4 linked regions of the Homo sapiens genome follow. The protein of the gene in region 3 binds, or shares a complex with, the protein of the main gene of each other region. Each region holds a gene or a part of one and is shown on either strand. Other genes may lie near its edges. The genes, in order: UBXN6, RHBDD1, VCP and VCPKMT. A codon is read from its position in the direction of its gene.

What was found.
Region 1: the proteins of VCP (region 3) and UBXN6 are in contact, whole or in part, in a cryo-EM structure (PDB 8FCO), measured with the Homo sapiens proteins. Residues at the interface, in NP_009057.1 of Homo sapiens: Pro23, Arg25, Ile27, Gln43, Asp47, Gln50, Leu51, Phe52, Arg53, Gly54, Asp55, Leu58, Lys60, Gly61, Lys62, Arg64, Leu72, Glu80, Lys81, Gly97, Val99, Ile100, Ser101, Gln103, Pro104, Cys105, Pro106, Asp107, Val108, Lys109; in NP_079517.1 of Homo sapiens: Pro279, Ser280, Pro281, Ala283, Ser284, Phe286, Glu287, Leu288, Phe292, Phe293, Asn294, Leu295, Glu299, Ile300, Arg302, Glu303, Gln304, Leu306, Arg307, Ser308, Val311, Leu314, Ser315, Val316, Leu317, Arg318, Thr319, Lys320, Ala321, Met322.
Region 2: the proteins of VCP (region 3) and RHBDD1 are in contact, whole or in part, in a crystal structure (PDB 5EPP), measured with the Homo sapiens proteins. Residues at the interface, in NP_009057.1 of Homo sapiens: Asn33, Asp35, Val38, Phe52, Arg53, Gly54, Asp55, Thr56, Ile70, Leu72, Tyr110, Pro137, Tyr138, Phe139, Leu140, Glu141, Ala142, Tyr143, Arg144, Pro145, Ile175; in NP_001161080.1 of Homo sapiens: Ser300, Glu303, Met304, Arg305, Gln307, Arg308, Leu309, Arg311, Phe312, Asp313.
Region 4: the proteins of VCP (region 3) and VCPKMT are in contact, whole or in part, in a crystal structure (PDB 7OAT), measured with the Homo sapiens proteins. Residues at the interface, in NP_009057.1 of Homo sapiens: Arg239, Gly280, Glu283, Ser284, Arg287, Lys312, Arg313, Glu314, Lys315, Thr316, His317, Gly318, Glu319, Val320, Glu321, Arg322, Arg323, Ser326, Gln327, Leu329, Thr330, Asp333, Pro355, Ala356, Arg359, Phe360, Arg362; in NP_078834.2 of Homo sapiens: Arg14, Ser15, Phe16, Val17, Arg18, Gln32, Tyr33, Ser34, Ser35, Gly36, Gly37, Val38, Val41, Trp43, Asp44, Ile47, Val48, Leu97, Asp144, Tyr147, Tyr148, Glu174, Arg176, Thr177, Met178, Gly179, Lys180, Asn181, Glu209 (codon at 912), Tyr210 (codon at 915).

Annotation. Positions count from the first base shown.
Region 1 is NC_000019.10:4,454,791-4,462,676, reverse strand, and holds the start of UBXN6 (UBX domain-containing protein 6), read left to right. Parts: upstream 1-4,882; 5' UTR 4,883-4,979; coding exon 4,980-5,062; intron 5,063-7,375; exon of another isoform or gene 7,376-7,456; intron 7,457-7,886. UniProt on the Homo sapiens protein: May negatively regulate the ATPase activity of VCP, an ATP-driven segregase that associates with different cofactors to control a wide variety of cellular processes.
Region 2 is NC_000002.12:226,902,048-226,909,069, forward strand, and holds part of RHBDD1 (rhomboid-related protein 4), read left to right. Parts: intron 1-4,745; coding exon 4,746-4,834; intron 4,835-6,774; coding exon 6,775-6,831; intron 6,832-7,022. UniProt on the Homo sapiens protein: Intramembrane-cleaving serine protease that cleaves single transmembrane or multi-pass membrane proteins in the hydrophobic plane of the membrane, luminal loops and juxtamembrane regions.
Region 3 is NC_000009.12:35,069,604-35,077,112, forward strand, and holds the start of VCP (transitional endoplasmic reticulum ATPase), read right to left. Parts: upstream 3,023-7,509; 5' UTR 2,751-3,022; coding exon 2,734-2,750; exon of another isoform or gene 2,154-2,733; intron 1-2,153. Other genes in the region: FANCG (Fanconi anemia group G protein), read right to left, coding at 4,505-4,613, 4,768-4,891, 5,324-5,479, 5,676-5,722, 5,862-6,151, 6,359-6,425, 6,829-6,980, 7,121-7,267 and 1 more. UniProt on the Homo sapiens protein: Necessary for the fragmentation of Golgi stacks during mitosis and for their reassembly after mitosis. Involved in the formation of the transitional endoplasmic reticulum (tER).
Region 4 is NC_000014.9:50,108,119-50,113,576, reverse strand, and holds the end of VCPKMT (protein N-lysine methyltransferase METTL21D), read left to right. Parts: intron 1-64; coding exon of another isoform or gene 65-67; exon of another isoform or gene 68-857; coding exon 858-962; exon of another isoform or gene 963-1,491; coding exon of another isoform or gene 1,492-1,635; exon of another isoform or gene 1,636-3,863; coding exon 3,864-3,878; 3' UTR 3,879-4,940; downstream 4,941-5,458. UniProt on the Homo sapiens protein: Protein N-lysine methyltransferase that specifically trimethylates 'Lys-315' of VCP/p97; this modification may decrease VCP ATPase activity.

The sequences.
Region 1 (7,886 bases), on a different chromosome or scaffold from region 3:
CAGTGGCGCGATCTCAGCTCACTGCAAGCGCCACCTCCCAGGTTCACGCTATTCTCCTGCCTCAGCCTCCCAAGTAGCTGGGACTACAGGCACCCACCACCACACCTGGCTAATTTTTTGTATTTTTAGTAGAGACGGGGTTACACCATGTTAGCCAGGATGGTCTCGATCTCCTCCTGCCTCAGCCTCCCAAGCAGCTGAAGCTGCAGGTGCGCACCACCATGCCTCACTAATTTTTGGTTTGTTTGTTTTTTGAGACAGAGTCTCACAAACCAGAATGCAGTGGCATGATCTCAGCTCACTGCAACCTCTGCCTCCCAGGTTCAAGCAATTCTCATGCCTCAGCCTCCCAAGTAGCTGGGATTACAGGGAGGCACAACCAGCACTGATTTTTTTTTTTTTTTTTTTTGGTAGAGACAAGGGTTCGCCATGTTGCCCAGGGTGTTATTTTTATTTTATTTATTATTATTATTATTTTTTGAGATGGAGGCTTGCTCTGTTGCCCAGGCTGGAGTGCAGTGGCATGATCTTGGCTCACTGTGACCTCTGCCTCCCGGGTTCAAGCGATTCTCTGCCTCAGCCTCCTGAGTAGCTGGGATTACAGGTGCTGCCACCACCCCTAGCTAATTTTTGTATTTTATTTTTAGCAGAGACAAGGTTTCATCATGTTGGCCAGGCTGGTCTTGAACTCCTGACCTTGTGATCCACCCACCTCAGACTCCCAAAGTACTGGGATTATAGGGGTGAGCCACTGTGCCTGGCCTGTTATTTTTATTTTTTAGTAGAAACAAGGTCTCACTATGTTACCCATCCTGGTCTTGAACATCAGGGCTCAAGCAATCCTCCTCCCTCGGCCCCCCAGTGTTCTGGGATTACAGGCGTGAGCCACTGCGCAAGATTGAACAATTTTTAAAAAATTACCCGGAGGCCGGGTGCAGTGGCTCACGCCTGTAATCCCAGCACTTTGGGAGGCTGAAACAGGCGGATCACCTGAGGTCAGGAGTTCAAGACCAGCCTGACCAACATGGAGAAACCCTGTGTCTACTAAAAATACAAAAAAGTAGCCAGGCATGGTGGCGGGTGCCTGTAATCTCAACTACTCGGGAGGCTGAGGCAGGAGAATCCGAGAGATGGAGGTTGTGGTGAGCCGAGATCGCACCATTGCACTACAGCCTGGGCAACAAGAGCGAAATTCCTTCTCAAAAAAAAAAAAAAAAAAAAAATTAGCTGAGTGTGGTGGCACATGCCTGCAGTCCCAGCTTCTTGGGAAGCTGAGTGGGGAGGACTGCTTGAGCTCAGAAGTTCTAGGCTGCAGTGAGCCATGATTGTGCCACTGCACTCCAGCGTGGGGAAGAGAGTAAGACCCTGTCTAAAAAAAAAAAGAAAGCTGGGCATGGTGGCTCATGCCTGTAATCCCAGCACTTTGGGAGGCCGAGGCGGGCGGATCACGGGGTCAGGAGATCGAGACCATCTTGGCTAACACGGTGAAACCCCGTCTCTACTAAAAATACAAAAAATTAGCCGGGTGTGGTGGCGGGCGCCTGTAGTCCCAGCTAGTCGGGAGGCTGAGGCAGGAGAATGGTGTGAACCTGGGAGGTGGAGCTTGCAGTGAGCCAAGATTGTGCCACTGCACTGCAGCCTGGGCAACAGAGCGAGACTCCATCTCAAAAAAAAAAAAAAGAAAAGAAAAGAAAAGAAAAATAAATGTTGTCCTCCCAAAGTGCTGGAATTACTGGTGTGAGCCACCGACCGCTCCTGGCAGAAATGTTAAATTATTTAATCTCATAACCTCATCCGACATGAGGAAGATAGTCCAGGAGAGCGTCATGGTGGAAGAGGATTGAGTTAGGCAGAGGAAGAGAAGTCCCTTCTGGTAAAGGAGAATGCCTAGGCAAAGGCCCAGAGGTGAGCTGGAAATACTTCCAGGTAACTGAGGCAGAGGTGGAAAGGTGGGTGATAACAAGAAACGGGGTTTCTGAAACCCTCAGAATACTTAGAACCTGAAATAGAAATTTATTAGGGCCTATTAATGTTAGGATCTCCTTAGACCAGGCTGAGGAACCCCATAGGATTTTATTCTTGGAGAAGTGGGATGGGTCTCTGCCACTTTCCAGCTGTGTGACTTTGGCCCAGTGTTGTACCTTTATTTGAGTTATAGGGTATACAATTCCTTATTCACAACAATGAGCTGTAATTTTCTTTTCTTTTCTTTTTGAGACGGAGTCTTGCTCTGTTGCCAAGCTGGATTGCAGTGGCGCAGTCTCGGCTCACTGCAACCTCTGCTTCCCAAGTTCAGGTGATTCTCCTGCCTTAGCCTCCTGAGTAGCTGGGATTACAGGCATGAGCCACCGTGCCCGGCATACTGAGAACTTTCTAATCACATGATCACCCCTACAATCTATAGAGAGTGTTATTCTTATCCCCATTTCATAGATAGGAGACTGGAGATCAGAAAGATTGAAGTTTGGGTTGCACTGTATTCTTCTTTTATTTATTTATTTTTTTACTTTATTTATTTATTTTTGAGACAGAGTCTCGCTCTGTCGCCCAGGCTGGAGTGCAGTGGTGCAATCTCAGCTCACTGCAACCTCTGTCTCCTGCGTTCAAGTGATTCTGCTGCCTCAGCTTCTCAAGTAGCTGGGATTACTGGCACACACCACCACACCCGGCTGATTTTTGTATTTTTAATAGAGACGGGGTTTTGCTATGTTGGCCAGGTCGGTCTTGAACTTCTGACCTTAAGTGATCCACCCGCCTTGACCTCCCAAAGTGCTGGGATTACAGGTGTGAGCCACCGCACCTGGCCCAATTCTTTTCCTTTTTTTTTTTTTTTTGAAACGGAGTCTTGCTCTGTTGCCCAGGCTGGAGCACAGTGGCATGATCTCGGCTCACTGTAAGCTCTGCCTCCTGGGTTCACGCCATTCTCCTGCCTCAGCCTCCCAAGTAGCTGGGACTACAGGCGCCCGCCACCAAGGCTGGCTAATTTTTTTAAAAATTATTTTCAGTAAAGACAGGGTTTCACCGTATTAGCCGGGATGGTCTCAATCTCCTGACCTCGTGATCCACCCGCCTCGGCCTTCCAAAGGGCTGGGATTACAGGCATGAGCCACCGTGCCTGGCCTTTTTTTCTTTTTTTAATAAGACAGGGTCTGGCTCTGTTGCCCAGGCTGGAGTGCAGTGGCGTGATCCTAGCTTACTGCAGCCTCCAATTCCTGGGCTAAAGCAATCCTCCCACCTTGGCCTCCCAAAATGTTGGGACTGCAGGCCTGAGCCACCCGTCCAACCCATGATATTTCAATTTCAGTCTTGGGGTGGGCTGTTTCCTCACCTGGAGGCTTCTCCTCCATCAGTCTCTGTGTATCTCATTCCAACTCCTTCTTTTTTGAGGCAGAGTCTCCCTCTGTTGCCCAGGCTGAAGTGCAATGGCGAGATCTCGGCTCACTGCAACCTCCACCTGCCGGGTTCAAGCGATTCTCCTGCCTCAGCCTCCCGAGTAGCTGGGATTACCGGTGCCCATAGAGACAGGCTTTCACCATGTTGGCCAGGCTGGTCTCAAACTCCTGACCTCAAGTGATCCGCCGGCCTCGGCCTCCCAAAGTGCTGGGATTAGAGGCATGAGCCACCACGTCTGACCCCCAACTCCCATTTTTTGAGGCTTGTTTTAACTGTCACTTTGTGTATCTTCTTTGTGGATTGCACAGACCAAAGTACGCCACTATTAACTGGTGTCCACCAAAGTGGATCCCCAATCCCCAGGTCCCAATTGGGTGCATTGGGTGCATCCTCTTTTTTTTTTTTTTTTTTTTTTTTTGAGACGGAGTCTCGCTCTGTCGCCCAGGCTGGAGTGCAGTGGTGAGATCTCGGCTCACTGCAAGCTCCGCCTCGCGGGTTCACGCCATTCTCCTGCCTCAGCCTCCCGAGTAGCTGTGAGTACAGACGCCTGCCACCATGCCCGGCTAATTTTTTGTATTTTTAGTAGAGACGGGGTATCACCGTGTTAGCCAGGATGGTCTCGATCTCCTGACCTTGTGATCCGCCCGCTTCGGCCTCCCAAAGTGCTGGGATTACAGGCATGAGCCACCGCGCCCGGCCCAGGTGCATCCTCTTAAACAGCTCCTACCTAGGGTACGTGGTGATGGTGGCGGGGGGGTGCTTCAGGCACCAAAACAGGCCAGATCGTGGGGGCCTCCAATACCCAACATTGAATTGGGATTTTATCACGTAAGCTCTGGGGAGACAGAGAAGGTTGGAATTTTTTTTGTTTTGCTTGAGACAGGGTCTCTCTCTGTCGCCCAGGCTGGAATGCAGTGGCTTGATCACAGCTCACTGCAGCCTCGACCTCTTGGGTTCAAGCGATCCTCCCGCCTCTGCCTCCCAAGTAGCTGAGAGGCGCGCGCCACCACCCTCGGCTAATTTATTTTATTTTATTTTTTTTTTTTTTATAGAGACGAGGTTTTGCCATGTTGCCAGGCTGGTCTCCAACTTCTGGGATCAAGCAATCCTTCCGCTTGAGCCTCCAAAGTGCTGTGATTGCAGGCGTGAGCCACCGCGCCTAGTTTAGGTTGAGCAGCGAAAGGGATAGGGCCCAGTGCTTTCTCTGCGAGGTTCAGTTGGCCTGTCCCTGTCCTATCACCGTTTGTCACCGTTTGGGGAGCGCCACGGAATGCCCTGTCTCCAATCGAGAGGTGCACTCGTCGCCCTGGCAACGGAGTCCGGAAGAACCACAGAGACGCGGCTCCAGCGTACAGAGCGGCCGCCCTGGGCCAGCAAGGCACCGAGCGCTAGAGAGGCACGTCTAGTCGATTGTCACGTGGCAGGCCAGGGGAAGGCGGGACTTCCGGCGGCGAGGTAAATTTTTTTTTTTTTTTTTTTTTTTTTTTTAATTTTCTTCCGGTGGCTGGTCTCCGGCGGCCCCGTCCCCGACTGGGCCCCGTGCCCCCCCGCCCCCGCGGCCCCCCGCCGCCGGGCCAGCCGCCACCATGAAGAAATTCTTTCAGGAGTTCAAGGCCGACATCAAGTTCAAGAGCGCGGGACCCGGTCAGAAGCTCAAAGAGTCCGTGGGGTGCGTGAGGAACGCAGGGGCTTGAGGCCCTGCGGGGCGGGGACGGCCGGGGAGAGAGATCTGGGGCCTTGGGCGGCTCGGGAGATCGGAGAGGATGAGGGGCTGGGAGCGGCACGCGAGGGTCAGGGGAGGGGGAGAGGCGCCGGGGGCGGACGAAGTCGGGCCGAGGGTGGGCGTCAGGGGGAGGGGAGAGAGATCTGGGGGCGGGGCAGGAGGGGGCGGGTATGACCCGGGGGCGCGGCGGGGGAGGCGAGGGGAGGGGAACTAGCGCAGGGGGCGGGGCGGGAGGGGAGGTCTCGGGGGCGGGGCCGCAGGAGGGTCCGATGCAGTGGCGGGGGATTAGGGCGACGGGGCTGTAGGCAGTTGGGGGTCAGTGGAACGACCTTTGGGGAAAAACGGGATCATGAGTCCTGAGCCGGGTGGTGAGGGAGAGCTCTGTCTGGGGACCCGGCTGGCCGAAGAGGCCGGGATGATTTGGGGCAATCTAGGTGACCATGGATGGGAGCTGAGCTTGGAGGAGGACGCACAGCTGTGGGGTGGGGTGGTGAAGAGTTGTTTTGAGGTATCCATGGGAAGAGGGGTTCTGGATTTGGTATCTGGAGCACGTGGGAGGCTGATGGGAGACTAGAAAGAGTCTGGAAGGCCAGGGAGGCCGGGGTGGGCAGCGTCGTCAGTGACCTGGGATGTCCTGGCGAATTGAGAGGGAGGGGCTGAGGAAGGTGTGTGAGGAGAGTGGAGGTGAGGGATTCTGACAGATGGACTCTTACCCGGGAGGGGCCTGAGAGGAGAAGACGGGTGAGACAGACGCGTCTTAGCAGGCTGGGAGAAAGAGCTTCTCTGCGAGGCTTCTCTGCCACGTCACTGTGCCAAGTGGATTATGGAAGTGGGAGAGGAGGGGAAAGGAGATAGATGCCGGGCAGGCTTCCGGATTGTCTAGGGAGGACTTGGAGAGAAGGGCCTGAGCAGGGCTGAGCCAGCTGGGAGGGCCGGGGAAGAAGTGGAGCTAGGGAAGGTGCAAGGCTGAGGGCTGTTGGGTTGAGAAAAGGGAAACTGGAGAGCTGGGGCCGCTGCAGGGAGCTGGCTGGCCAGAGGGTGGTGGGGACTGATGGAGAGGGACTGAGGAAGTCAGCCAGGCAGCCAGGACACGGGTCTGTAAGCAATAGTGGAAGGGATTGTGAGGGAGTGGGGGCTGGGAGAGGCAGGGAGGTGGCAGGAAGTGGGGGTCAGGAATCACGGGGCAGTGGGGTGGTGATGGAGGTAGGGGCATAGTGAGGACGTCAGGGTTCCTGGGGGAGAGCAGGAGAGCAAAGGCTGAGTGAGGGAGGGAGAGGGGTCAGGGAGAGAAGGGGGCAAATCGGGGGAGCCCTTCATTGATTCAACCAATAGTGGGTGGGGGGTGCTGGGGCCACTGGGACTGGGCATGATAGGAAGGATGCAGGGTATCGGGGTGATGGCTGGATCAGCCCAGAGCCTGGGCGGAGAGGGGAAGGTTGGAGGGGAAGGTTGGGAAAGGAAGCGGTGCGGAGGTCCCTTGTGGAGCGAGACTGCATATCCAGGGTGTGTGGGGTGGGTGGGCACCAAGTCCTGTTTTAGGCTGCAGTGGTGGACAGGAGAAGGCCTCTGCTGTCCCAGGGCTCACCTTCTAGAGGGAGCCGATGGACAAATAAACCAACAGACCTTGGATGAGCGCTCAGGCGATGAGTGCTTGGATGAGTGCCCAGGGCCTCCAAGGAGGGTGAGCAGGGGCCGTCAGGTGGTTTGGGAAGGCCTCTCCCAGGACACAGTGAGACTCAGCTGTGGGGAAATCTGCCCCTCCTTCTCTCCCTGCGGCAGCTCTAGCCCTTTCCAGACCCCCATCCTCCTCCCACTCCCCCGGAGAACATTCTGGGCAGAAGGTGCAGACAGTGCAGGGGCCTGCAGTGGGGAGCAGCTGGGGTGTGGGAAGAACTGCGGGGAGCCCAGGGGAGACAGGCCACGGGAGGGCAGTGGGCCAGGCTGGGAAGGGCTCTCTGGCCAAGGGAAGCTTTAGGATTTTGCAGTGGGAGGGCGTTGTGCAGTGGAGTGATGCTGACGCTCCCTGGCTGAGGTTCCAGAAGGGTCCCTGTGGCTGCCCAGGGGGGCAGGGTCCATGGCTGGTTGGGGTGAGGTGCCCTGGGAAATGGCATTTTGTTGGAAAGACCCAGATATCGGATGAGGCCGGGGTGGGTCTTCATGAGTCATCTCCTCTTCCACCCAAGATGCTCAGCTGTGGGAGGACTAGATAGGCAGGGGTGGGACGAGGAGGGAGGGCTGCCCGGGTATGTAAGCAGAGCCAGAGGAGTATAGGGCTTGAACTGAGAGCCTGGCCTCCCAGAAGGTTTTAATAGACCTACGGCACAGAAATTGACACAGCCCGTAAGTTCATGGGAGGGGCCTGAGAGGAGACGGGTGAGACAGACGCGTCCGAGCAGGTTGGGAGAAAGGGCTTCTCTGCGAGGCTTCTCTGCCAGGTCACTGTGCCACGTGGGTTACGGAACTCTCCTTGGTGTAGGGCTCAACAGGGTGGAGCCACGAGTCCATGAGCTCTTCGTACTTGCACAGCCCTAGGCCTGGCATGGAGTGGCCAGGGCGAGGCTGGTTCTGCTGTCCGCTCTCCCCAGGGTCCCGCCACGAGGGTGGCGTGGCATGGGGCACATCGCCCGGACTTCCTGTCCCTCTTGGGTTTAGGAATGGGATGGTGAGGCCTCCCTGGCAGCTTGTTAGGAGGAGTAAACCAAGCGAGCCGACCAGCTCCCAGCAGGGTCCTGGCACACAGTAGGTGCTCAGCAAACGAAGCTGTGACCTG
Region 2 (7,022 bases), on a different chromosome or scaffold from region 3:
AGAGGGTGGTAGGTCATAACCAAATCCCCAGTCCTAGCCTAAGACCTAGTAAGGTCAACAGGAAGTTGTTCCTAGTTGCAGGATTGTCCCTGAATGCTGCTTCGGATGGCATCTTCCACGTGGAGCTAAGAACAGAATGAAGCCACAGGCTTATTCAGAGACCACAAGCTTCACAACTTCTGTTTAACACATCTAATTATGATTGTAACAATACTGTCTGGTTTTGATGCTGTTACGTTTGAAGGTAGATCCCAGCCACTGATCAGAGCATTCAGATGGATCATCTTCCCCCAAAGCCCAGGGCTTCTTTCTGTCTCCACAGCACCCCCAGCTCAGGGGTAAAGTGCCCTAACCCTAGGACTGGTGAGAACCACCTTCCCAGTTCAGTTTTCTCCCTGTCTGCAGGTCCATCTATCTTCTCGCTCAGGATGTGGGTATCTCTTAGAGGGTGAAGGGAAGTGATTTGTCAAATGGTTACCAAGGGCATGGAGAAAGTTAATTTACCTCTTAAAATGACTTTTATATTCCTTTTACATTGGTGAAATTCATTCTCCTGTTTTTTTATGTGTGTGATGTTGAGAGATTCTCAGTTTTGATTGAATAAGATCATAATCTCATTTTTATTTTAAAATTGAACACTTTTATAAAGCTTAAATGAAACAAGACCAGTTAAATTTTTGAGATGGAACTTTTGTGGAAAATGCTGAATGTTGGAGGATGACGCAATGAGTTCTCCGGACTGCCAGCCTCCCTTCCCTAGATATTTGAAATTATATTAGGGCAATTAGATTATAACTCAAACTTCTGAAAACCATTTAGAGATAGATAAGAAATTCATTTCACTGTATTGTACTCTAAATTGTAAATGAGATTCAAGATTAATTGTTTAATAGGTTGAAGTTTTAAATTGAAACTTCCTTCTATGTTATTTTATATCATATATGCTTCACCATGAAGGTTGATTTGAAACCAGAGTTTCAGAAATACCAATATTATTATATTCTTTTCATCTAAATTGAAGTTATTATTATTTTTTTAACTGGTCCTGGCCACTTCTTTGTATCTCTCAAACTGCCACTTTCTTTGTCATTTTTACAACTATTAATAGGTGGCCGATTGTACTGAGCCTGAGCATAGAATAAAATAAGTACAGTGGTCCCCCTTATCTGTGATTTTGCCTTCTGCATTTTTAGTTAGCCCCAGTCAACCTTGATCCAAAAACATTAAATGGAAAATTCCAGAAATAAGCCATTTATAAGTTTTAAATTTCACACTGCTCTGCATAGCATGGTGAAATCTCACCCCGTCTCACCCAGGACGTGAATCATCTCTTTGCCCCGTGTGTCCATGCTGTCTCTGCTACCCACCCGTGAGTCACTTAGTAGCTGTTATGATTATGAGATGAGAAAAGCATAGTATATATAAGGTTCAGTACTATCTGTGGTTTCAGCCATCCAGTTGGGGGTCTGCAGATAATGGGGGGTGACTATAGAATTTCTTAGCTTGGCTGGGGAGCTAAAAGCATAGTTCCTACTATTCTTGCCAGAAAATGGGAAAAAATGTTCAATCCCATAATTTTATTATATGAAGTAGTGACACGGACAGGAGGCAGAAACAGTGGGTAGAAGAGGGCGGTTCCCAGCAAAGGCCCCACCCTCAAGCCTGGAAACCCACAGCCCTAAATGGGAACAGGCATTCCTGTTTTTGCATCCAAAAGCTGCCTATTGGCCCACCACACCCCCCTCTCCTGTATCCATATAAACCTGAGACCCCAGGCTCCAGAAGGAGACAAGGAGATGAACAGAAGAGCAGAAGAATAGCAGAACGGCGCAACAGAGAGAAGGAGCATCTGAATGCTAAGAGGGAGTTTACCTGGACATGATCGGAGAGGAGATATGTCACTGGACAGCCAAACTCCAGGGGAAGACCATCTTCCCACTCCATCCTTCTTCCACCTCCCCATCCATCCCACTGGGAGCCACCTCCATCACCCAATAAAAGCCCCACATTCATCCTTCAAGTCCACGTGTGATCTGATTTTTCCTGGATGCCAGAGAAGAAACAGGGAAACAGAAAACTTTCACACTGGCCCTCTGCCTTTGTGGAAAGGCAGAGGGTTCACTGAGCTGTCTAACCCTTAAGCTGCCTGTGGACCGCAAGGTTAAAAGAGCGCACTGTAACACACACCCACTTGGGTTTCAGGAGTCGCAGATACACACCCCTGGACGTTGCCGTGAGGCTGAAGCCTAGGGGCACTCATCCCAGCTCCTGCACCTGCCCATCTGTGTGCTCCCCTTCCCGTAAGGGGTTTAAGCATGCACGGTCACCAAACAGACAAGTTACACCACTGTGGCACATCCTGCAAGCGGGGGGGGAGGGGGGTCAGGGAACTCCTGTTTCAGTAGATATATCTGATGAAAATAATGCTCTCCTGAGGGGATGATCGTGTATGTGGTGTGTGTGCGTGTCTGTGTGTGTGTGCACGCGCATGCATGTGCCATGACTTTTAGCACGTGTGCATGTATGTGAGGGCTTGTCTGGGCAATAGTGTCATTTAGTCAGCTAATGGGAACAAGCATCAATGCTGTTCTCTTTACAAGGCTCCTGTTTGTCTCTTTCTTTCAAGTGTTCCTCATTGCATGTTCTTTTCCTGAGAGCCAGCGAGTCTTTTCATAGCTTGGAGACAAAGAAAATTACTCAGAACCATCTTGCTTGTGGTGTTTCAGGGAATCTCCCCTAGGCTGCTGCCATAGTAGGCGAAATGTATTGGTTTTGACTCTGAGTCTCGTGTAGGTTACCAAATGGCGGATTCTTAGCTCTGTGATTGCCGTGGCTCAGCAAGCACCCTGAGCTGAACATCTAGTGGTTTTAACTTACCTCCTGTTGGTCTTGGTGAAACGGTCCTGGCACACTTGAGCCATTTACTCAACATATCCTTGAGTGCCTCTCATGTGCCTGGCCCTGTCCTGGGTGTTTGGAATACATATGTAAAAGCCACATAAAGGCTATGTTCTTGGAGTCTCCATCAGGCTCTTTCATAACTTTCAGTTTCCCACCTTCTGGAATGAGAGGTCACTATTCCAGGCTGTGGGAATGCGTTCATTTGCTTGGCTTTTTTTTTTTTTTAAGCTTCTAATTTTGTATAATGTATGAATGAGACACCATTGCTGCCCTCAGGGAGTTTGTGTGTGACAGAGAGAGACGGACAGGCAGGCAGACGTGTAAGTACTGTGCCACCAGCAGACTGGCTTCGTGCCAGAATAAGGTAGGAGCCTCAGCTCTGAGGGGAGGCAGGAGAAGGAAAGAACGGCTCTTCAACTGGGGTGGCATTTTTTGACAGAGGTGCTGTTTGGCTTAGCCTATGGTCAGAGAGTGCTTGGGGGATGTGACAGTGGGGCATGTGGGAATGGAGGTAGTAGACGATGAGGTCTCCACCCTCTGACTTTGCAGAGATGGGCAAGGCCAAGTGTTGGAAGGGCTTAAACACACACCGGAGTATTCTGTGAGAACCAGTGGATTTCAGAGGATGGCAATGACACCACTTGCCTTCTGCCTCAGGAGGATAACTGATGGCCGTGTGTGGGATGCACTGGAGAGCAAGAGCTGGCTTGCAGGGAGACCAGCTGGATGATTTTCTTTCATTTATTTTATTCATTCAACACACATTCATCTGGGGTTCACTCTGTGCCCAACACTGGGCATTTCCAAATAGTCCAGATGGCAGTAAGCATGGTTGTGGCAGTAGGAATGGGAAGGCTGGGAGGGGTATGAGAGGCATTACAAACGGGAAGTGGGAGTGGCACCCCAGAAAAGTCTAGTTTAAGGTGCTAGTGGATGTGTGCATGTGTGCGCGGGGGTGTCTAGAGGGTGGCGGGCAGCTGGAAATTGAGGTCAAGTGCTTAAAGAACAACTCGTTGTGTAGGACCCCCCCCTTTGTGGTAACAGCAGAGGTTTTTGAGAATCGCCAGTAATTTCTTAAACTCAGGCTGGTTGGGAGGTCATTCAGCCAGGGAACTCCACAAAGAGTGTTGCCACTTGGGTCAAAGTAGACCTCTGAAAATAAATCTTACAAGTAATTGCTGGTTTTAGATGCCAGTTTAAGAAGAGTTAAACCACTGTCATGCCCTAACGCAAACACTTTCATGCCCTAACTCATCTTTCAAGTTTGAAATTTAAATGTATGTTTCTTTGTTCTGAGTGACTGAAACATACACATGAAGACAACTTTGGTGGATGCAGGTGGGCATCTCAGTTCCTTTTGCTGAGTTTCACTTGCTCTCTGCTTCACTCATCCATGGTGTAGAAAACTGCAGCAGTCTGCCCTGCCATAACACAGATAGACATCATCCCTCACAATGGCTGGATAATTCCAGATTTAATGCCAAACAGAGAAAACTGATTTTATTTATGTTTTGTGATAAGAGGTACAGAAAAAAAACGGAAAGCGATGTAATGACTTGTCTTGACCAAATGCTTCCACTGCTCTGGAGGAGACAACCCACTTCCCCTGGTTAAGGAGGGGTGTTGCGTTTTAAACATGTGGTGGTTGTTATTCATTGTACTTTTTTTTAAGGTAGGAGATGTTGTTCTTTGGACTGAGTTAAATGCTGCTTAGCATAAAAGACTTGATGTGGAACAAAGCCTGCAGACTGTGACTATTTGACATGCACTGGGCTAATGAGAAGACAGAATGTCTCTAATCAGCAGCAGAACAAACACTCACAAAGGGTCTCCTTCCCTCCTAGGACTTCCTTCGCTGGGCATCTGGCTGGGATTCTTGTTGGACTAATGTACACTCAAGGGCCTCTGAAGAAAATCATGGAAGCATGTGCAGGTACAGAATAAAACACCTTTGGCATGACAACAGCTTGGAAGTTCATGTTAATTTTAATGTGAACAGAAGCAACCCCAAGTTTCCCTGTGGTTCAGCTCAAGAATTCCCTAATATGCCTGTTTTTCTTTTTAAACCGAAAGGTAAAACAACCAGTGCAGTTCCTTACATTGCTCCACAAAAGAGGCTGCAAACTTAAATTTCGAATCTGATACTTTCTTAGGGGACAAATATCAGTATATATTTATACCCTCAACCTTAATGCTACCCGCAGAAAACCACGATTTCCTAAAGAATGCAGAGAACTAAAGTGCCTTTAAAATAATGCATTCTTCTATAATAGTCCATGAATTAATATACGTGCAAGGCAAAGGTGAAAAAGAAAACAAAGCCTGGACTGAAGTGCATGGCCAGTATTTTAAAGAATTCAGACTGATGACCGGGTCCTTGGTGGATGAGCCATATATTCATGCATGGCGAAACCAAGTCTGTTATTGCTTGAAGCTTAGCTCCTGCTTTTTTTAATTTTGTTTTTCCCTTCAAATTGATACTCAATGAAAATATTTCATTTAGAAATACTTGTATTTTTTAGACCTCTTAATTTTCAATGCGATTCTCATTTTGACTTGTAAGAAAACTGGTTTGCAAACACTTGTTTTATAGACTGAGTTCCACTATTTCATCTTTTATTCATGGGAAGTCTTCTGAGACTATTTTACCTTTTCTTGAACCATAAATAATTTGTTTCACAGTTTGTGCTGATGACTGGTATTCTTGAGAACCATATAATATTCATGATAGTAGAAAGCTTTCCAGGCACTGCACTGGCACCTTTATTAGCAGGTCGTGTTCACTTTTGGTTGATTTTTACAGGCTGTGTTGCATTTAAGCAGATCCTCATTTTCCCACGTTTGCTTATTAATGTGTTTCCACTGTACGTACTTAGAGGAGGCAGTGGGAGCTTCATTTATTGAAAATGTCCAGTTTTATTGTATTTTCAATACAATTTAATACTCATTAGTACTGATAAAAGAGATGATTCTCGGGAGTTTAATGTCTTGTTTCTTTTTTCTGTGTCTCATGATGAAGCGGTTAGTAAAGCTTTTTGCAGACATGTTATGAAATTTAAGCAAGTGCTTTGTTTAATTTTTAAAGAGGATTTTCCCCTAATTATAATATTTAAACTCTTAGTTTTAAAAGCCTTAAAAAATAAGTGGTGACTTATTTCTACACCACTCCATTTTCAAAGTAATAAATACAATAGCAAATTAAATAGGAAAATTAGAACACTCAGTGCAATTTGCAAATAGCCTGCGAACTCGGCCTTTTTTCTGTGAGCTGAGAATTGAAGGACACAGGAACCCCATGGAAAACGACCCAGCATGTGGAAGCTGCTGTCTGATGCCTCCTGGAAGAGGAGGGTCACCCTGAGGGTGTGGCCCTTGGCCCTCCCTCTCTCATTTCATTCAGCCGTGCCAAATTGACTGAGTAGACAGTCCTACTGCCTTCTGTAGGGACAAGAAAGAGTGAAGTCCCCTAGGAAGGGTAGGGAGGATGGCTCTCCTAACACCTTCTTTGAGGAAGGTTCTCCATTTAGCCAGAGTGTCTCTGCTTGTACAGAGACATCAAAGCCGAGGCTTGGTACTTTGGCAGGCAAAGACTAAGGAACTTCAGTGAGTGTAAATTAGGGTTTCATTTTCCACTACACACACACACACACACACACACACACACACACACACATTCTTTTCCCTGTAGGGACACACACACACTCTTTTCCAGTTAGGGCTGGCCCCCAAACAAAAGGGAGTTTATTTTAATAAGTGTTTAGAAATCATTTGAAATGACCTTGGGCTTTGTCCAGAGAACTTTCTAATTACTGGAACAATTAGCATTTAAAGCTTTATGGCTGCCATTAAAATGTTTATTTCTTTTACGTTTAGGCGGTTTTTCCTCCAGTGTTGGTTACCCAGGACGGCAATACTACTTTAATAGTTCAGGTAGGCACTGTATTTCATTTAATAAATTTTAACTTATTTTTAAAATTATAGTGTTCAGCTCTACAGAGTACTTTAGGATACTACTAGTTTCTGCTGTGGTAGGGTCATTCACATGTTGTGTAACTGTGCCTCTAACACACCTGGAAGCTAGATGGAGGGTAGCCTAGGGAGCATATTTGTGGGGGTTGGTA
Region 3 (7,509 bases):
CACCACACCTGGCTAATTTTGCATTTTTACTAGAGATGGGGTTTCACCATGGTGGTCAGGCTGGTCTCGAACTCCTGACCTCAGGTGATCTGCCCACCTCGGCCTCCCAAAGTACTGGGATTACAGGCGTGAGCCACAGCACCCAGCGCTCTCTCTTTTTTAAGAGCGGCCTCGTGTTAGTAAGGCTCAGGAAAACATAAGCATTAACCAAAGTAGGAAGGCCAGACAATGAAGGAAGCAAAGAAAATAAATTTTTAAAACGAATTTCTTCATTCAACAAATTCATGAGTCTCTATTATGTACCAGGCATTGTTCTAAGGGCTGGGGATACTGAAGTCAACAAAACAAGACAAAATAGTATTCCCATTGGAAATATCCTCACAATTTGCAAGAGACAAAGAAAAATGCTGTGCTCAGCTAGGAAGCCATGGGGTTCTTACATCTTTGGGTCCTGATACACCCAAGAGAAAAACAAACCCCATTCATCTAACAAAATGGTAGGCCTTCTGCTAACCCTCACACATAGGCTGCATTTTTAACCACTGCCTCTAAACTAGTTTCTAACGACAGTTTCCTCTGCTCAAATTTGCTTCCCCCATTCCAAAAGTCTGCCACTCCAGGCACAATGCTGCTGAGTAGGCAGACTCTTCCAATGCTTATCAACACACTAGAGGCCAAGCATGCTCAATGTGACAGTTGAGAGCAATGTAAACCCACGAGCTCTCCCACTCCTGTCCCATCAAAATACTCTTCCAGGGACTGCCCATCTTCTTGCTTGACTTATAGAACTGGGACTGGAGAAAAATAAAACGCCAGATGCCTCTAGTCACCATAGTTTTTTATTTTTTGAAACGGAGTCTCCCTCTGTTGCCCAGGCTGGAGTGCAGTGGCGCGATCTCCCTCACTGCAATCTCTGCCTCCCTGGGTTCAAGTGATTCTCCTGTCTCAGCCTCCAGAGTGGCTGGGACTACAGGTGTGCACCATCACCATGCCTGGCTACTTTTTGCATTTTAATAGAGATGGGGTTTCTCCATGTTGCCCGGGCTGGTCTCAAACTCCTGACCTCAAGTGATCTGCCTGCCTCGGCCTCCCAAAATGCTGGGATTACAGGCCTGAGCCACTGTGCCCGGTCAATAGTTTGTATTTTAATCTCAAAGCTGTATCCTAGGAAAACCTCCATTCTGCCTACCATCCCGGACTCTGGCTCTGGAGATGAGTGGTATGCCCTTTTCTTAAGGTAAAGCCTCTAATTCCCCATCTACCTACTGAGATCAGATGTGGTAATCTCTAAAAGACTGAATTTGGCCTGACCATGGGCCAACAGCAGTTCTGGACACTCTTTGGGGCAATCCTCCATTGTCTTCTGTATAAGTCAATCCCTTTCCAGAACTGCACAGGGGACTCCACGGGACTTGGAAGGGTTTCAGCTAAGAGTCATCAAGGTGACCAAGAGGTTAGAAACAGCTGATGATGCCAGGTTCCAAGAATTTTAGATTTTTACTTTTGAAAATAAGAGGCTGACTGCATATAAACCAAAAGAATACTTTCAGAATAAGTGACTCTTTTAAATAAGCAACTGAGTAATACTTTATCCGAATTCAGAAACTTGAGAAAAAGGAACACACCTCAAAAAACTAATCTCTTCAAGGAAGGAAGGTAATTTGCATAGAGTTTCCTTGGGCTGGCTGTGTTTTTTTTTTTTTTTTTTTTTTTTTTTTTGCCTCTAAAAGCTCTCTATTCTAAATTGAATGGGCTGAGGTAGCCAAGTTTTATCTAACGCTTTCCTAAGGATGGAGGTGGGGTCAGAAAGCCCCAGAGCCCGGGTAATTTCTCAATATAGCTGGTTGGGGAAAGGAGTGCGCGCACGTTTGTGTTTTTGAAGAGTTAGTGCAACTCTAAACTGCACACCACGAAACCTGGAAATCTGGAAAGGCGCACAAAACACGAACTGAGATTCCAACTTTAGCAAGAACCTAAAATGTTAAAGAAAAATTCCTTTCTCCCCACCCACGAGTCATAACATTAAGGAAAACTGGCTCAAACTTTCTAGTATGAACAACAGGCCTAAAGTAAGAAGACCAGAAGCGAAAGGTAGGGCTCGCCCTCTCCCTAACAGTCCTTCACGACTCAGGTCACACACAGAGGATGCCCACCTCCGGCCCCGCCGACCCGGCTCCAAAAAGGCGGCTGTGAGCTTCCCTGAGCTCGGCGGGCCTTCCCCGACCCCGGGCTCCGCCTCGGTGGCAGAGCTCCTGAGGCCTTCACATGGCGCAAAGTCCACGCCCACCGGGCCCGGCTGGGGCCTCGGGCTCGCGGGGCCTGCTCTCTCCGGGGACCAAAGGCTTTCGGCGGGTGGTAGGCCGGACGGCAGACTGGCGCCCCAAAGCCCCGGGGCGCCGCGCCGGCGGAGTGGGCCGGAAGACCTGGCCAGGCCCAGACGTCCGTTCTAAGGGAGCCAATCGGGCGGGCCGGGGCCTGCATGACACAGCACGATCCGGCCCAGGCTCCGACCCGGACCCAACGCAAGCCCCGCCTAGGGGGCGCGCGGGTGCGCAGCTGGCCCCAGCCGGGCCTGCCGGGTCCACGGCCCCTCACTCGCCCCCTAGCTTCCCTTCCCTCTTTCCTGGTCTCCACCTCTCTGACGCGCCCACGGCCAGGCCCCGCCGGGCCTACCCTGCGCGGCTGGTCCCGGTGCGCGCCGCCGCAGCAAGCGAACGGCGCGCGCACACTCACTCGGCTCCAGAAGCCATGGCGCGCGCCTCTCCCGGCCGGCGGCTGTGGCGGCCCGCGGGTAACGGCTACGAGCGGTGGCAAGCGACCGACTGGGCCGGGGCTCGGCTCTTCCAGGCGGTGGGCGAGCAGCGGCGACAAACCCGCAAGCGGCTTCCCTCTCGCTTCCTCCCACCGGCAGCGAGGCGTCGGGCGAACAACGCTGGCTCCTGATCCGCGAGGTGGCAGTGGCAGTGGCAGCGGCAGCGGCAGCGACGACTCAAACGACGGTCGCAGACGCTTCGCTGAGACTGAGCCGAGAAGAGCCGAATCATCGGAAGGGAAGCTGCTCCCACCTCAGCCAATCAGCGCCTGCCCTGCGGACTCTCGCCCGCCTCTCCGCGCCTCTCCCCAGCAACCCGCAGATCACAGCCAATCAGGAAATTCGCTTGCGGCCTGGCTCCCGCCTCAGTGATGCGACACGCCTAGTAACGCCACGTCAATTGGCCGCAACGCTACGCTTCCTCGACGGATTGGAATTCTCAGCCAATCAACGAAAGGAATAGGGCGAGATCGATTAGTGAAAGGAGACCCTTTAATCCCTTAGAGGCGGACTCTCCCACTTGGCTCCAGTTCATTGGCTCCGGAGTTTATCCTCCTGGAAGAACGTGGCACAATAGACTGAACCCTTGTATTAGTCTAGTCCTATTGTGGTAACCCATACACCCATCTTCTCCCAAAACCTGGAGATCTTCTAAGACGCCATCACCACCCTGACACTTCTTGCTCCTTCTCAACGCTGCCTCCAACCACCCCTACTCTGAACTTTCTGACTAGCACCCCACTCCTACCCCATTGTCACTGCACCCTCTGGTAACCCCAATCCCACAGCCTTTGCAGTTTCTCAGCGCTTGTGCCTTTCTTCCTCCCGTCATTAATATTAATACCTTATAATAAGGCACTCAAATCCAGAGAAGTCAAAGGGCAACCACAGAACACACAGCCAATTCAGTAGAACCCAAATTAGCAAGAAAACTGCATATGCTGGGACTTGAAAATCCTTGGGCCCCAAATAACAGGGGTCCCTGTTAGTAGTCAACAGGCAGCTGTTGGTGATATGCTGACTCAATTCACCTTTCACCCTGTACCCACACAGACACATTTGACTAAGACGAGTCGAATTTCTAGAATTTGGAATTAGGAAGGGAGTGAAGAGTTACTCTGAGAGAAACCTGCCTGTCTCTAAGTAACAGGTACCTGCCCTTGTCCTGAGAGGCCTATCTAGACCACCCTTCAGACCCAACTCCACTCATTGTCACTGTCCTGGGCTTTGGGGCTCTGCATTCAGGCAATGTGAAGGACTAAAGCCACTGCCTCCAAAGTGAGGATTCCTGTAGCCCTTTCCTCATACCCAGACTTCAAGTTCATAAGGTAGACGATGTCAGGAAAGGGCATCATAGACAACTAGCACTCAACTAGACGGTCACAAGCCTTCCCACGCAAGTATATGTAGTAGGCAGACGAGATAAATATGAAATTTTACTCGACAACAGAAAAGGAGAAACAGGAAAAAAGGTGCCTCGAGCAAAGTCAATGACTTGGTGGTGGCAGAGATTGTTTCCTCCAAAACGAGAATGGTAGTAACTAGGGCAAATTTCACAGGCCTACCACCAATCTCACCAGTCCAGGAATTATATAGGAATGGTCACATTCCTAATGATGGTGAAGCAGAAAGCCCTCCCCACAGAGAGACAGCCCACTGGGGACCCAGCTCAAGCTCTTCAAAACGTGGCAGCTACAGGTCACAAGACTTTGGCAGAGATGTCCGAAATTCTTCAAGGAAGGCGTCACGATCAGAGGGACGGATCCAGCTCAAATAGCTTTCTAGGTACAGGGGGAGAGACCTGGAGAGAAAGAAGGATGATGCCTAAGGGTGAAAGATTGGCAGAAAGCTGGGCAGCCATACCCCCGCTTTCAGTGTTCACCACCCACAATAGGTCCAAGGACTCTAGGACACCAACTGCCCCTCAGCCCCAAGCCAGCAGGCCTGAGCCTCACCACAGAGCATCTTCATGTGACCCCTTAGTTTGGGCCTCCAGCCTCCACCAGAGTGCAGTGGCCTCATCCCTCCGATCTAGCCTCTTCAGAGTCTGAAGCAGGTGAAAGTAAGTGTCTCGATTACCTGTAGCCCCAGCCCAGAGTACAGAGTCTTAGAACTTGACATAGTCTTAGGCATTGTTTTATAAAAAGGGAAACTGAGGCCTAGAGAGAGGAAGTATCTTGCCTACACTCACATATGGAAGCGGGGGCAGATCATTCACAACCATTCCCATCCCAGTGTCCATCATCTGCCCCCTACTCCTGTGCAACCCACAACAGCAGAGTCATGGTCTTTGTGTCTGAGGATATCGGGGAAACCAGGGAACTCTTGGGAGCCCTGCATACACACTGTGTATATTTGAACACCTGGATATATCCCTAGGTATATATAGCACAACCCCAATCACCCCTCCTGTCTGAGAACACCACTCTTACACTTACGCCCAAGTATTTCCCATGGGCCTCTCTGTCCTTGCACATCTATGCATAGCCGACGTCATGCAAGTATACATACCTGGGCACATCTGCACACTGAGGAGGAAGTCCTGTAAGGCTTTGGTATCCTGGCCGCTGGCTACCCATTCCAGTCCACGACTAATTAGGGCGGCTGCCCGAAGCTGCTGCAGTGCCGCATCTGACTTACATCCCTGCTCACAGTTGAAAGCTGCCCCTGGGGACCACTCCCAAAGTCAAGAAGTGTCTTCCCAGCCTCACAGTCACCAAAACCCCAAATCCTCCTCTATTTCTTCTTGTGTCCACAGTCCCTTTCTCTTAAGTCTCCTGGTGGGCTGGGACACATTAAAGGGAACCCACTTCCACCACTACCACTTCCAGGAGGTAAGAGGAAAACTGAAAGTTTAGATCACCTTGTTCTTTTTCCTCAGGTGTGGCCCGGAAGAGCAGCTCGAGGCACCTGAAGTAGGACACAGAACAGGGGTGAAGAGGAATCAATTTCAGAAACTCTAGGGTAAGTAGGTGAACATGGAGCTCACCAACTCAGGTCCCAATCAGAAAATCATCCCTCCACACCCCCTCTAGGACCCCGGGCTCACCTGCTAAATTCACTAATTGCCACTTTTTGGGCACCCAGTTGAACCCAGGCCTGGCCCTGAAGCAGGTGGGTGGCAGAGACCCAGAGTGGGCAGTATGGCAGTTCCTTGGTTCCTTTTCTGGCATCTTCCCACAGCCGGGACATCTTGGGTAGCAGAGATGATGTGCGGCTGAGCAACTCCTCACATAGAGTCAAGGCATCTTGGGCTCTGCCTGCCTGGATCAGTGCTACCGCTGCCTCCAAAAACACCTCAGGCATACAGGGCCCTGGAGGGGAGGGGGGTGGGGAGAACTGGAGTGGGAAGAAGAAGCAGTGTCTTGAAAGGCATGAGCCACCATCCCCAACCTCTTCACCAGGCTCTGGTACCATGCAGAGTCCTGGGCCCCCAGACTGGACAGACAGAATAGAGGAAAAAACAAAAAATTGCAGTCTTGCTGTATTTCAAAGGGGACACCAACCCGTCTACCCCATTGCAGAGAAGCTTGAAGACACACCCACCCTTGGCTCCGAGCTATCCAGCAACAGGGCCAGCAGGTCCAAGTAATGCTCTGCAGCGTCTCCTGCCCTGAGGAGTAAAAGCCCATAAGCCTCACCCTAGGCCCTAGCAGGGAACCTGCAAGGGTCCTGAGAATGTTCTCTCTTAGCTAACAGATGGATGTTCATGGGCCCTGAGGAGGAGAAAGGGAGGGAAGGTCTTAGGGCTCCAATTTTGGCTCAGTATGGATCTACCCCAGTTACAGAATGGACTGGGGAAGAGACTTCAGAGTGTCAAAGATAGAGAAGGTTAATGTCTTAGAGAAGAGTCCTCAGTTCAGGTCTAGAAGCAAGGTAAGAGGCTGAGGAGTGGCGACCTATGTCCTGCCACTGCCTCATTCATCCCCCAAGTCACAAGAACAAAAGCAGAGTCACACCCCAGGGGAGGCATCAGAAGTGGGAAGAGAAGCTCAGGTGAGCAAGGGGAACCTCACCTCCCCGTCTGTAGGCACCTGCTTGCTAGTATGTGCTTGGTCTGGCTCTGAGTGCCACAATGAAGGGGTGAGGCTAGGTCAGGTGGTGGCAGTAGTAATTCTACCTCAATGAGAAACTGCGGGGCTTTGGAACTGCATGGGACATTCAAGGCCTAAAAGAGAAAGAAAAAAATTGTATCTATAATCTTTGGGAGCCATACTTCCTTATACTTGGATCTTGACTAGTCAAGTCACCCCATCACAAGCACCTCAGGAATCCTCCACCCCACATCTTCACCTGGCAGTTCCCTACCTCAACTAGCAGCTCCAGACTCTCCAGCTCTGCTGTTGTGTCCCCCAGTTGCTGATAGAGCCTAGAGGCCTCCAGAAGTGGAGGACCCCAGGCTGATCCCTCTTTCAGGGCTGCAACCAAGTACAACAGTGCTCTCTGTGGATTTCCCTAAAGGGATAGGAGGACACGGGCCTCAGCTACCCTTACAAAGCAAAAAGCTATACATAATGCTTGTGGTTTCCCCAATCCACCCTAGGACTGTCTTTACCATCTTACGGTGACAGGACCCCAGTGCTGTGTACACCTGGACCAACACAGGCCGTGGACACAGGCCTGAGGCCGCTTCATGAAGGCTGCTTAGTGCCTTGTCTGGGTTCCCTGTGATCAGCTCCTGGAGACCTGAGGACAGT
Region 4 (5,458 bases), on a different chromosome or scaffold from region 3:
CTTACAGGAAGTTGCAAAATATAGTATATAGGGTTTTATGTATCTGTCACTCTTCTTCCCCTAGTGATCACCCAAACCCTTATATGGGCACAAATCTATCACATTGTGAGTGACTCCTTTTGAGGGTACATCTATATAGGCCTGCAGTTTTGTCTGCTGGAAGGACTACTTTGGTTTAATGAGAAAGCAGGTATATGACTGCCTCAGGTAACAAATACTAAAATGTTTGTTTATTTTCATGTTTTTCTTGAATATGAAAAATGTTCATGAACTTTTGAAATGATGCATAATGAAAATTTCGTACTGTTAAACAGCTTTTATTGGGGTAAAGCATATGTAAAATGCATATGTATCAGTCAAGTGCTGAGCTTAATTTTTCATATGTATACACCCAAGTAACTACTTACCAACATAAAGATAGAGGACATTTTCAGGATCTTGGAAGGTTTGCACACTGCCCTTTCCCAGGCAATACTCAAAAGGTAACCACTGACCAGGCGCGGTGGCTCACGCCTGTAATCCCAGCACTTTGGGAGGCCGAGATGGGCAGATCATGAGGTCAGGAGTTCGAGACCAGCCTGGTCAACATGGTGAAACCCTTTCTTTACTAAAAATACAAAAATTAGCTGGGTGTGGTGTCGTTTGCCTGTAATCCCAGCTACTCAGGAGGCTGAGGCAGGAGAATCACTTGAACCCAGGGAGGTGGAGGTTGCAGTGAGCCAAGATCGCACCACTGCACTCCAGCCTGGGTGACAGAGTGAGACTCTCAAAAAAAAAGTAACCAGCATTCTGACTTCTGTCACCCACAGGTCAGTTCATATTATTGAATTTGAAGTATGTCTCTTTTAAATTTATAGCTCCTTCAGCTAGATTTTGACTTTGAAAAAATTCCTTTGGAAAAACATGATGAAGAGTATCGAAGTGAAGATATTCATATTATATACATCAGAAAGAAAAAATCGGTAAATAACATTCTCAGTTCTTCATTCTCCAAGGAGGTTTCATCAGCTGGACACTATTTCAGGGCATATGTGTGGTATGGGCGTTGATTTTGATGTGGAGAAACAGCTCTAATGATTCACTGGACTCAGGCAGTAACTTCATTGTCAAGATAATTTAATCTATCTTGCCTTGGGTTTTTGCTCTAAAGCCAGGCTTTTTTTTTTTTTTTTTTTTTTTTTCTCGTATTTTTTAAGTAGAGACACGTTTCACCGTGTTGCCTAGACTGGTGTCGAACTCCTGGGCTCAAGTGATCCGCCCACTTCGGCCTCCCAAAGTTCTGAGATTACAGGCATCAGCCACCATACCTGGCCAGGCTTCGCTTTTAAAGGCCTTTTCCAGCTTCTCCATAGGCGTAAATTGTATAGCTCTATAATTGGGTATTACCTCAGACAAGTTATTAGCTATTTATAAGTTTCTTTTATCTCTGTGAGATTTTAAAATGCCTGCTCTTACCTTTGTGAACTTTTCCTTATTAAAAATTGTTTACAGGAAATGAAATACAACAAGGCAGATGAGTCCATAAAAGATAAATGCACTCAATTAAGTAGAATTTATGTATTTTCCCGCTTCTTGGTGCATGTTTTACCCTGTATAACAATCACATTTTATGCAGGTTGCCTCAGTGACACCTAGGGTTTGAGCCTGTAGAAAGAGGGAAGAATTGTACTTCATCCTTTTTTTTTTTTGAAATAGGGTCTCACTCTGTCATCCAGGCTGGAGTACAGTGGTGCAATCTCGGCTTGCTGCAGCCTCTGCCTTGCAGGCTCAAGAAGTGATCCTCCCACCTCAGCCTCCTGAGTACCTGGGACCATAGGCATGCACCACCATGCCCAGCTAATTTTTGTATTTTTTTTGTTGTTGTTGAGACAGGGTTTTGCCATGTTGTCCAGGCTGATTTTGCACTCCTGGACTCCAGTGACCTGCCCACCTCGGCCTCCCAAATTGTTGGGATTACAGGTGTGAGCTGCTGCGCCTGGCCTTTCATCTATTTTTGTATTTCCAGCACCTTTGGTATATGTGACTAGTGTAAGGCAGGGAGATGATTAGTTTTATGAATTAAGGATGCTAGATTCAATAAGCCCACACTTTTTCTATCATCTTTGCTTTGATTATGTTTGTGGTAAAGTTTTCTGATTATATGAATTCTAGTCAAAAGCAAATAAAACTTAGGGAACAGAAGTAGGTGTTAGGACTAAATCTAAGTAAAAAGGCAGCAGCGGGATTATTCAGATTAACATTTATGTGGCATGGTGCCACAGATACAAAAAAAACTGTTTTGTGCTTTAAGGGATCTAGTGTTAACTGAAGCTGTTGTGCAGTTTTAAAAGTAGAATTTTTTGGAGGCAGAAAGATTTTGTGTTTCCTAAATATAGAGGCTTTTTTTTTTTTTTCGGCCAAAAAAAAAAACTCTTATTTTTTAGTTGATGTAACTCACATACCATAAAATTCACGCTTTTAAGGTGTACAATTTGGTGGTTTTTAGTATATTCACATAGTTGTGTAAATTACCACTTTCTAATTTTTAATGATTTCACCCCCCAGAGAAGCCTCTTACCCATTAGCAGTCACTCCCTGTTACCCCCGTCCCCAGCTGCTGGCAGCCACTAATCTCTATGGATTTGCCTATTCTGCACATGTCATATGTAACAAGTCACATACTGTGTGGCCTCTTGTGACTGTCTTCTTTCACTCAGCACAGTATTCTCGAGCCTTATCTACATTGTAGCACACATTAGCACTTAACTCCTTTTTGTGGCTGAATAATATTCCTTTATGTGGCTGTACCACACCTTATCCATCCATTGATGAGATGAATAATGCTGCTATGGACGTTCATCTACAAATTTTTGTGTGAACATGTTTTCAGACCTCTTGAGTATATACCTAGAGGAGAACTGCAAGGTTATATGGGAACTCTGTTTAACTTTTTGAAGACTTGCCAAACTGTGTTCCTAATCTACCATACCATTATACGTTCTCACTAGCAGTGTATAAGGGTTCCAGTTTTCTCCACATTTTTACCAACATTTGTTAATTATACCCATCTCACTGGGTATGAGATAGTCTCTAAACTGTGGTTTTCATTTCTCTAATGACTAATGATGTTGGGTATCTTTTCTGTATTTAGAAGAAATGCTTGGCCCATTTTCAGATTGACTTATTTGTCTTTTTACTTTGAGTTGTGAGAGTTCCTTATACATTCTGAATACTAAACACTTACAGATGCATTATTTGTGAATATTTTCTCCCATTCTGTGGGTTGTCTTTTCATTTTCTCAATAGTGTGTCTTGTATTTTCTTAATTTATTATTTTCTTATTTTTCTTTTGAGACAGAGTCTCGCACTGTCACCCAGTCTGGAGTGCAGTGGCATGATCTTGGCTCAGTGCAACCTCTGCCTCCCAGGTTCAAGTGATTCTCCTGTGTGAGCCTCCCAAGTAGCTAGGACTAAAGGCATGTGCCACGACGCCCAGCTAATTTTTTTGTATTTTTAGTAGAGATTGGGTTTCACTAGGTTGGCCAGGCTTGTGTCGAACTCCTGGCCTCAAGTGCTCTGCCACCTCAGCCTCCCAAAGTGCTGGGATTACAGGTGTGAGCCACCACACCCGGCCTATGTTGTGTCTTTTGAAGCACATATATTTTAATTTTGATAATGTCCAATGCATCTGTTCTTTCTTCAGTTGCTTGTTAGGTGTCAGCAAAGAACCATCTATAAACATGCATGGTTGTTCACTTGAATTGCATGTAGCCACTGTTATACTAGGCATACTAGGCATTATGAGGCATATTAGGCATTATTAAATACCCAGTAAATAGTTTGTGGTAAATCAATCTTTTAAGTTTCCTTTTTTTTTGTTATAGAAATTTCCATCGTGAAGCCTTTAATCATCTTACCCAAGGCTCTAACAACCTGGGTAAACTAAAGATGTGAATAGAGCATGTGAATACAGCATGGGAAGATTGTGTTCACAGATTTTTTTTTCCGGCACGTCCTTAGAGATCCGATGTATAGATGATGACCACCAGGGGCTGTCTGCAATACGAAAAATTCCTGCTTGCCTGCCTGCCTGCCAATGGCCCTGAATCCAGCTTAGGTTACTTAGTTCAGCATCAAGTTCTTCTTAAATGTTGGGAATCAGTTATTCAAATAAAAATTGGTATTGAGGCGAGGCTGAAATCTGCCAAAAACAGCCAACATGATTTGACTGGACCTTTTACAGGAAGCTAGAGATAAATTTCTGAAGAGAACTATCTGCTATTATATAATAATGTTTTAAATTCAAACTAGTAAATTTTAGTTTGTCTTCAGAGTTTAAAAGGTTTTCATTTTGTACATAATTATACAATATTTATCATTTGTATTTTCCACTTCATTTCTTTTAAAATATCTTTAATACTGAAATGTTCTTTTAATTTTAAAAAGAACTGAGATATTGTCTTGTATACTTATATTAGCCAAAGTTTTCTTTTCCTCCACCATACATATCTATGTGATTTAATCAGTAAATTGTACTGTAATGAGTTGCTAAGAAGACAAATCAGAAGATTGGAGGAACAAAAGATATCTTTACAGATTTTTCATTTGAGCATGGAGTGAGAATAGAAAGACCAGTTTCAGGCTTATGCACTTACGTGGCTCATGCACTTTATGTATATGTTCCAGGAAAATCTGGCTTAAAAATACTGGTATTGTTTACATGAAGCAGTGAAAGGTTTTTGAATAACTACAAATGTAGTTCTATATGTATATACCAAATGAATTTCTGTTCTGTGTCTCTCTGTTTTATGTTATGAAGCCATTCGCTCATATACAATAATCTGTCAAGGACTTTAATCATACTTGTTCCAAAGAGTAGTAACCGGATGGAATTCTGGTATTTATAGGCATTGGTGCTAGATGGTACATTTTATGTGTTAAAATAAACATTGTTTTTGAGACCTTGTGACTGTGAATTTCAGAAATACCTTTGAAGAAAGTGAACATCTAAACAGTTAACAGGAGCAAAAGCAGCCCTATTTAGAGACATTAAGGATACAAGTCAAGAAATCAGTTCATTCCTTTCAGGTTTATTTCAGTCTTAAAAGTTTCCTTTGCTGGTTTCCCCCCCGCCAAGATACTTTGTTCATACTGTCCTTAGCATTTCATTAAGCAGTTTGCAAGGCAGTGTAACCTAAATCTGTGGTGCTTTGTGAGGTACAGATAGTGCTAGCTGTTATTAATGATGTCTTAGGACAAATGACCACTTTTTAGCTTGTTTTATAACATGAAATTTGTAAAAATAAGTTTGACCTTGACTATAATAGTCCACCCAGGTTCCTTAAATGTCTTTTCACCCTCCAGTTTTTATGCCCTCCTGCTTTCTCTTTTTTTTTTTTTTTTTTTGAGACAGGGTTTTGTTCTGTTGCCCAGGCTGGAGTGCAGTAGTGGCACAATCTTGGCTCACTGCAACCTACTC